3 linked regions of the Homo sapiens genome follow. The protein of the gene in region 3 purifies or fractionates together with the protein of the main gene of each other region. This does not show direct contact. Each region holds a gene or a part of one and is shown on either strand. Other genes may lie near its edges.

Region 1 (3,500 bases), on a different chromosome or scaffold from region 3:
AGAATAATGACAAAAAGACTACAACAGCAAATGAGCTCACCACCATACTGGAAAGCTAGAAGCCGATCTATTTCACCAATGTGTGGGCTCTATTTTTCCTTGAAGAGGATGTGGCCTCAGTGAAGCAAATTTTGATTCAAGAACCATTTTGAAAAAAATTCCCTTAAATGGAGCATTAGCATTAGCATAGCACAATAGGCTTCTCATATTTGCCAAGGCCCTGCTTGCTCAGTATCACAGCAGGTGAACACTCTACTGGGGCTTGGGGGAGCTTCAGGAAGCTGCTCTCAAATATCCTGCATCCTTTTCTCCTCATTGTGACAATCTGGCTTCCAGTGGGTTTCCGAATCCTTGGCAAGTAAAGTGAGAATTTAATCTAGTCTTACAATGGGTTGTGCATGTGGTAAGAGTCCCTGGATCTGTGTCATCTCTTCCTGCCAATCCACAGACAACCTTATACTCTGCAAGTACGCAGGGAGACTCAGCAATTTAAAAGACTGCCAAAATGTATTCAATCTCTTTAATTCAGTAAAAGTCTAGCCTAGTGTAGAACATAGTTAAAAATGAACTAAGACCTTACCTAACTTTAAACTAAGACACTATCTCTAACCTTAGATTTCTCCAGGTATAGGACATGAGAGTCACTAAAAATAAACCTATTTACTGTAGGATTTCTAAGAAAGCATAAGAGTACATATTAAATGATATGTCTCAAAACCAGGAGTCAATTTATTTTATTTTTCTACTCACTGAAAACATTTTCTCAAGCAATTTCAAGATTACATGTTTTTTAAAGGTGAAAAGGATATGGCAATGTCTTCTAAAACACAATTATGACAATTACGCTTCATAGAAAACCTAAATGAGCTTCAGAGTAAAGGAATATTAACCTTTTCATTTATGTTAAGCTGCTTTGAGGTCAGTTTACAATTAAAATAAAGGTACATTGGAATATTACATTAGATGGAAATAGATAATTCTTCAATTCTTTAAAAAGAGCTTGAATATAAACAAATATAAACAACTGTCACTAAAGTCCCTAATGATCTCCATGACACTAACTTCAAAAGACATTTTTGGTCCTTACCATCTTTGCTCTTTCTTAAACTTTTGCATGAAGACTCCTTTCTTGAAGTATTTTCTTGCTCTTGACTCTGTGATATTATCATCTCCTGGTTTTTGTCACCTTGCCGGCAGCTACATTCACCTTCCTCTCCCTAGTCATTAAATGTGAAGGTTTTTCAAAGCTTTGTCCAGGCTTTCTCCTTTTCTTAGATTACTCTTTCTCCCTAGGTTATCTCATATGGAGCGCCTCAAAGTTTTTCACACTGTGGTACACAGAGAAAATGACAATATGTGTATGACATCTTAGAACTGGAGGTCGCTGGGCCTGGTGTGGTGGCTCATGCCTGTAATCCTGGCACTTTGGGAGGCCAAGGCAGGCAAATTGCTTGAGCCCAGGAGTTTGACACCAGCCTGGGCAAGCTGGTGAAACCTCATCTCTATAAAAAATACAACAAAATTAGACGAGTGTGGTGGCTACTCAGGAGACTGAGGTGGGAGGATTAGTTGGGCCTGAGAGGTCAAGACTGCAGTGAGCTATGAGTATACCACTGCACTCCGGCCTGAGCAACAGAGTAAGAACCTGTCTCAAGAAAAAAAAAACAAAACCAAAAAAACTGGAGGCCTCTGGCCTGAAGGCTTTAATCACTACCTTAGCACATGTATGTTCCATCACAGCACATCTTATGGTAGGGCCCTGGGAAGTTCTGAATCAACATCCATGTATTTAGCTATCACCAATATGCAAATAACACACAATTTTATATATTCAGCCCAGGCCCCGTTTCTTAGTCCTAAGAAACGAGGACTAAGAAGAGATATGACAACCGGATCTACACTACAGGTCCCATTTTGCCAGAAATGGGATCTGTAGATCCAATTGTCACATCTCTTCTTGGATATTTGAAAGCATCTGAAATACATCATGTCTAAAACTAAGTTCATTATCCGTGTTCCCCAAAACTCGGTCCTCTTCTGGTGTTCTCCGTCTTCTGGTGTTCTGGTAATCACACCATGACGTTGCATAGCCAGAATTCTAGGAGATACCCTTGACACTTCTCCCTCACTTCCATGTGCAATCCATCATCAAGCCCTGTTCAATCCACCTCCTTAACATCATCCTTCATCTCTCCATCTCTACCACCACCTGAGTCCAAGCTACTGAAATAGTTCAGTTAAATTGCCCGAATTATTACAATAATCAAGGAAGTCATCTATTCTTGTCTACTCTAGCCAATCCTCTAATTCATTCTCTAATCTATAGAGTGGTTTAAAAACTAATAATAAAGATTTAATCCAGTCATCCCTTTGCTTATGGCAATATTCCTTAACATGACCAACAATATCCTGGATGGGCTGATTCATATTCATTATTCTGGTCATCTGTTGCTGCAGAACAAGTTGGCCACATGTGGTTGTAGTAAGAATTTGGCTAAGGCTGGAGTCATGTGAAGGCTCAATTGAGCTTGGCATCCAAGATGGCATCTCCCTTCACATGTCTGAGGGCTGGTCAGGCATCTTTCTCTCTACCAGGCTAGTTTCAGGTTCCATAAAGCATGGCAGTCTCAGAGTGTTCCACTTCTTACATGACAAGTTACTTTCCCCAGAGTGTACTTTACAAAAGACCAAGATAAAAGCTGTAAAACCTCTTCTGACCTACCCTCCAAAGTCATTCAGCATATTTTCTACCTTATTCTAGAGGTCAAAATCAAGTCATGGCATCAGCCCAGATTCAAGGGGAGGAAACTGAATATCAGAAGACATAGTTCTTTGAAGGGGAAAGAGAGTCTTCGGAGAATATCCACCATACCTATCTCTCCAGTCCCATTTTGCAGTGCATTTCCTACTGCTGTTTCCATTTTAGCCACGTTGGCCTTCCTTAAGTTCCTTGTATTTGTCATACTCCACCCTGCTGATCACTTTGCCAATACTGCTTTCTTTGCCTATAATGGTCTTCCAGTCCACCTTTTGCCAAGTTAACTCTTGCTCAACTTTCAGATCTCATTCAAGCATCAAGAAAGCCTTCCCCGACTCCCTCAACAAAATTAAATCTTAATTTATACTCTCAAGGTATTGCATATATTTCCAGCACTGTCTTCATCACCATTGCATTTTGCATCTGTTTGTGTGATTACATAATTTATTTCTCAATACCCCCACTACACTGGAAGAGGAGCCATGACTATTTTTCTTCTCCTACCACAGATTTGGCTGGTACTCAAATATTTATTTGCTGAATAATAAACTAAGTAAATCAAACTGTCTGCCTCTGTATAACAAATTATTATTTTCCCTTTATGAATTATAGTGAAGTATATAATCCCATTTCCATATTGAATACATAATGAGACAACCCCAGATATAAACAATTTTCACAGAAAAAATCTTATAAATTCAAAGGTCATATTCTTTTGTTATATCCTAACTACAAAATTAGC
Region 2 (3,500 bases), on a different chromosome or scaffold from region 3:
ACTATAAAACCATGATAAAAATAATTTCAGGGTTCTATAGCTTTTTTTTTGAGAAAAAGTCTCGCTCTGTCACACAGGCTGGAGTGCAGTGGCATGATCTTGGCTCACTGCAACCTCCGCCTCCTGGGTTCTCCTGCCTCAGCCTCTCGAGTAGCTGGGATTACAGGTACGTGCCACCATGCTCGGCTAATTTTTTATGTTTTTGGTAGAGACAGGGTTTCACCATGTCGGCGAGGCTGGTCTTGAACTCCTGACCTCAGGTGATCCACCTGCCTCGGCCTCCCAAAGTGCTGGGATTACAGGCGTGAGCTACCACACCCGACCAGGGTTCTACAGCTTTTAAGGAGAGAAAAACTCACAGCAGATATTTATAATTACGTAATGGAAACTGGTATTTCTATTAGCTCTTTTCAACCAGTGAAGAAAGAGGCACTGGATGGTTAAAAATAATATACTGTGAAGTCCAGCAGGCTGAGACTGGCAGGACAGGGAGCAGATAAAGCCAAGAGCCACAACGCTCGTGGAAGAATGTGAGAGACAAAAAAAGGCAGAGTGGCAAACCGTTTTTCTTGGGTCCCCTCCAGATAACAGCATCATCAGGACTGCTGAGCAGGAAGCCCACTGACATCACCCCCAGGTTGTCTTCCACGTACTGCAGAGGGAACAGGGTGAGGGCAAGACACGCTTTACTCAAAACCACACAGTGAGGCCCTCCCCCAGGTCTTCTGTTTGAGCTCTGACTGAAAAAAACATTTTCAGGACAAAACTACCATGTGACCTATGAGCATATTCACTCTTTGCTCCTAAATCATTTTTGGAAAAAAAAAAAAGGGTACCATGTTGGGGGATTTGAAAGAGGCACTGTATGTCCATGGGCTGCAGTGACGGCAATGACAGGGAACTCAGCTAAAATAAGTAAATGTCATCTCCTTAACTCTTTTATTTTTTTATTTTTCATTTTTTTGAGATGAAGTCTGGCTCTGTTGCCCAGGCTGGAGTGCATGGTGCAATCTCAGCTTGCTGCAGCCTCTGCCTCCCGGGTTCAAGCAATTCTCCTGCCTCAGCCTCCCGAGTAGCCAGTGTTACAGGCGCGTGCCACCATGCTCGGCTAATTTTTGTATCTTTAGTAGAGATGGGATTTCGCCATGTTGGCCAGGCTGGTCTCGAACTCCTGGCCTCAAGTGATCTGCCTGGCTTGGCCTCCTAAAGTGCTGGGATCACAGGTGTGAGCCACTGCACCCTGCCTCCTTAACTCTCTTAACCAGAGATTTACAAACTATGGACTTCAGGGCCAAATCTGGCCCACCATCTGTGTTTGTAAATAAACTTTTATTGGAATACTGTCCTGGTTGTTCAGTTACATATTACTACTTTTGTGCTACAACAGCAAGGAATGTAGGCCCACATGCTGAAAATCTTTACCGTCCCACACTTTACAGAAAAAGCCTGCCAATCACTGGTTTTAATCACATCCTCTGTGCCTCGAAAAGTACCCTAATAAATACCTATGGACCAACAAACCACAAACCCATTATGTACACACAACCACACACTACTGTGAAAATAGGGCAAAGAGGTGAAAACTCACCACTGGAGACCAGCCTGAGCCACTCTGGTGAACCTGTGTGAACATGAGCACCGATGTTCATTAGTAGAAATCATGTACCCTGGTCACATTTCATGCACAGACAAATTGTACAAAGTAAGACGATGGTTTTTTAAAATATAATTCATTGTCTTACATGGTACCACGAAATTCCTAAAAGGAGGTGAACAGCTAGGGCGTGGGTAATAAAGATGCAACTCAACTCCCTTTGTGCCCTAAGCTGGGTTATTTGGAAACTCTACTTGGATGTCTAGATAGGGAACCAAAGTTACTCAAGTTCAAATATGATGTTGTGTCTAAGGTATCTTAAAAGAGTCATAAAAATCGGCTGGGGACTGATGAGAAAATGCAGATACCTGTGGAGCAATGAGGTGGCTTTTGTAAAAGCACAGGAGTGAAGGGAATGAGCTCTCACGAAACAGCTGATTCAGAACCTGTCCCCAATCAGCTCCAGCCACAAAGGGGAGCTTCCTGGGGCAACAAGATTCAGACCTCTTCCCCCCAGCAGGTGTCCAGCAGCACACAAAGCGCACACTGAAAGTTTAATTTTCTTGATGAAGCCTTACTTTTCTCAACAGATTTACTGAGACATGATTCATAGACAATATGACTCACCCATTGAATGAGTGGCTTTCTGTACAGTCACAAGCATGCAGCCATCACCACAGTTTTATTTTTTATTTTTATTTTTGAGATGGGGTCTTGCCCTGTCGACCAGGCTGGAGTGCAGTGGCGTGATCCTGACTCACTGCAACCTCCACCTCCCAGGTTCAAGTGATTCTCCTGCCTTAGCCTCCCAGGTAGCTGAGATTATAGGTGCCCGCCACCATGCCCAGCTAATTTTTGTATTTTTTGTAGAGACGGGGTTTCACCATGTTGGCCAGCCTGGTCTCAAACTCCTGACCTCAAGTGATCCACCCGCCTTGGCCTCCCAAAGTGTTGGGATTGCAGGTGTGAGCCACTGTACCCAGTCACCACAATTTTAGAACATTTGCCTGACTCTTAAGAAGAATCCCTATACCCCTCAGCTGTCACCACCCCCCACAGTCTGTCTCACATCCTCCCAGCCTTACAGGACCCCTAATCCACTTTCTCTCACTGTGGACTGACCTATTCTGCACATTTCATGTAAGTGGAATCACACAACATGCGGTCCTCTGTGACTGACTTCGAAGTTCTATTAAAAGACACCCAGCCAGGCACAGTGGCTCACACCTGTAATCCAAACACTGCGGGAGGCTGAGGCGGGAGGATCACCTGAGGTCAGGAGTTCGAGACCAGCCTGGTCAACATGGTGAAACCCCAACTCTACTAAAAATACAAAAAATAGCTGGACGTGGTGGCGTGTGTCTGTAATGCCAGCTATTCAGGAGGCTGAGGCAGGAGAACTGCTTGAGCCCGGGAGGCGGAGGTTGTGGTGAGCCGAGATCGCGACACTGCACTCCAGCCTGGGCAACAAGAGTGAAACTCTGTCTCAATAAAATAAATAAAATAAAATAAAATAAAATAAAATAAAATAAACCCCACAAAACCATTCATTCCTATTTACACTCGTTTGCTAAGTCCATTTGTCTTAAAAGAGGGGTAAACAGGATGATCCAATAGTGCAGGAGAAGAAAATAGGGAAACTTCTATTTTCTTTTATTTTAAAATTTTCTGTTTCATGAAATAATTACGTGTGATGACAGTAGCTTATACCTTCACTGTGGCGTGTGCTACCAAATCCATTGGGGTATGTGACCAAGCCTCACAGGGTGACATCGCTCTCCTTCCCTACTCCCTCGGAAGCAAACCCCAAGGCCTTAGAAGTGCCTGCAAGGCCGGCCCCATCTGCTTCGGGCCACCCTCCAGCCCCTCTGGTCACTCCACTGAGGACACAAGGACACCTTGTGTC
Region 3 (2,227 bases):
AACCCTGGTAGGCCCCTGGACCATAGCTTGCCTGTGTGCACTAATTTCTCTTTGGTTTCTGGCAGCTGGGGAGCCCCTTTCTTTTGATCTCAACTAAGTATTTTAACAAGGTGACTTTTGGCTGGGTGTGGTGGCTCATGCCTATAATCTCAGCACTGTGGGAGGCCAAGGTCAGGAGTTCAAGGCCAGCCTGGCCAACACGGTGAAACCCCATCTACTAAAAATACAAAATACAAATACAAAAATTAGCTGGGTGTGGTGGCGCACGCCTGTAATCCCAGCTACTCAGGAGGCTGAGGCAGGAGAATGACTTGAACCCAGGAGGCGGACATTACCGTGAGCTGAGATCGTGCCACTGCACTCCAGCCTGGGTGACAGAGCAAGACTCTGTTTCAAAAAAAAAAAAAAGGCGACTTTTGCTCAGCATTTTGTGGGTTGTAGGGAGAGGGGTCTGCACCAGTTTAGCTCACTCAACACCCACCATAAGCCCTCCTGGCCGTGGGGTCTCTAAACCCCACTTGTTACTGCACAGTCTTCCAAATGGTTTATAAGTGAAACAACATCATGTTGTGTGTGTATGTGTGTGCGTGTGTGTTTGGGACAGTCTCACTCCAACCAGGCTAGAATGCAGTGGTACGATCTTGGCTCACTGCAACCTCCGCCTCCTGGGTTCAAGTGATTTTCGTGCCTCAGCCTCCTGAGTAGTAGCTGGGATTACAGGCGTGCGCCACTATGCCTGGCTAATTTTTTTGTCATTTTTGTAGAGGTGGGGTTTCACCATGTTGGCCAGGCTGGTCTCAAACTCCTGGCCTCAAGTGATCACCCACCTCATCCTCTCAAAGTGTTAGAATTACAGACGTGAGCCACCACGCCTAGCCTCATGTAGTTTTTTGTTTTCTTTTTTTTTTCAGACAGAATCTCACTCTGTTGCCCAGGCTGGAGTGCGGTGGCACAATCTTTCTCTCTGCAACCTCTGCCTCCAGGGTTCAAGCAGTTATCCTGCTTCAGCCTCCTGGGCAGCTGGGATTACAGGCATGCATCACCATGCCCAGCTAATTTTTGTATTTTTAGTAGAGATGAGGTTTCGCCATCTTGGCCAGGCTGGTGTTGAACTCCTGACCTCAGGTGATCCGCACGCCTCAGCCTCCCAAAGTGCTGGGATTACAGGTGTGAGCCACTGCGCCTGGCCTCATTTGTTTCTTAAACAGATACGCATATATGCATATAACGGTATAAGATTAGGATTGGAAAGATCAATAGCAAACCCTTAATAGTGATTACCTCTGAGGGGAAGGAGGGACATAAGATTACAAGTGGTATCAAAAGTGACTTCAGCTTCCTTTGTAAGGCTCTGTTTGTAAAACTTTCATGTTCTATCATGTAATTTTTTGGGGGTAAATGTATACGTAGATGAAACGTGGAGGCAGTTAAGCCAGTTGTTGATGGTGGGTGACTGTAAGTGATGGAAAGGTGGTTGACCCCCTTTATTTTCTGCGTACTTTTCAGTATTCTGAACAGTGACACGAGTCTTTTTTTTTTTTTTTTGAGATGGTGTTTTGCTTTTGTTGCCTAGGCTGGAGTGCGGTGGCGTGATCTTGGCTCACTGCAACCTCCACCTCCAGGGTTCAAGTGATTCTCCTGCCTCAGCCTCCCAAGTAGCTGGGATAACAGGTGCCCACCACCAAGCCCAGCCAATTTTTTGTATTTTTAGTAGAGATGGGGTTTCACTATGTTGGCCAAGCTGGTCTCGAACTCCCAACCTCAAGTGATCCACCCGCCTCGGCCTCCCAAAGTGTTGGGATGACAGGCGTGAGCCGCCGTGCCCGGCCACAAGTCAAGTTTTAAAAAGTAAGAGGAGCCAGGCTGCTTGCATCAGGCTCTGCTCAACAAACCTGGCCAGTAGGTGCGGCCGTGTGTCCGTGATAGCACTTAGGGGAATTTGTGAAGAGCTGTGACTGCAATACACTGCTATGACCTGTTGCCTGTGGCACTGTGACCACAGAAAATGATGTCTCTAACCTTACTTTGCAGAATAGAAAAGAAACGCACCATCATTCCTACACTGGTGGAAGCAATTAAGGAACAAGATGGAAGAGAAGTGGACTGGGAGTATTTTTATGGCCTGCTTTTTACCTCAGAGAACCTAAAACTAGTGCACATTGTCTGCCATAAGAAAACCACCCACAAGCTCAACTGTGACCCAAGCAGAATCTACAAACCCCAGACA

Evidence for each region. The genes of interacting proteins can lie anywhere in the genome.
Region 1: the proteins of DFFB (region 3) and PIP4P2 purify together in Homo sapiens (co-immunoprecipitation; one large-scale study listed by IntAct). This does not show direct contact.
Region 2: the proteins of DFFB (region 3) and NUBP1 fractionate together in Homo sapiens (co-fractionation; one large-scale study listed by BioGRID). This does not show direct contact.

The regions. Positions count from the first base shown.
Region 1 is NC_000008.11:91,034,360-91,037,859, forward strand, and holds part of PIP4P2 (type 2 phosphatidylinositol 4,5-bisphosphate 4-phosphatase), read right to left. Parts: intron 1-3,500. UniProt on the Homo sapiens protein: Catalyzes the hydrolysis of phosphatidylinositol-4,5-bisphosphate (PtdIns-4,5-P2) to phosphatidylinositol-4-phosphate (PtdIns-4-P).
Region 2 is NC_000016.10:10,753,842-10,757,341, reverse strand, and holds part of NUBP1 (cytosolic Fe-S cluster assembly factor NUBP1), read right to left. Parts: intron 1,622-3,500; coding exon 1,589-1,621; intron 653-1,588; coding exon 562-652; intron 25-561; exon of another isoform or gene 1-24. UniProt on the Homo sapiens protein: Component of the cytosolic iron-sulfur (Fe/S) protein assembly (CIA) machinery. Required for maturation of extramitochondrial Fe-S proteins.
Region 3 is NC_000001.11:3,881,476-3,883,702, forward strand, and holds part of DFFB (DNA fragmentation factor subunit beta), read left to right. Parts: intron 1-2,031; coding exon 2,032-2,227. UniProt on the Homo sapiens protein: Nuclease that induces DNA fragmentation and chromatin condensation during apoptosis. Degrades naked DNA and induces apoptotic morphology.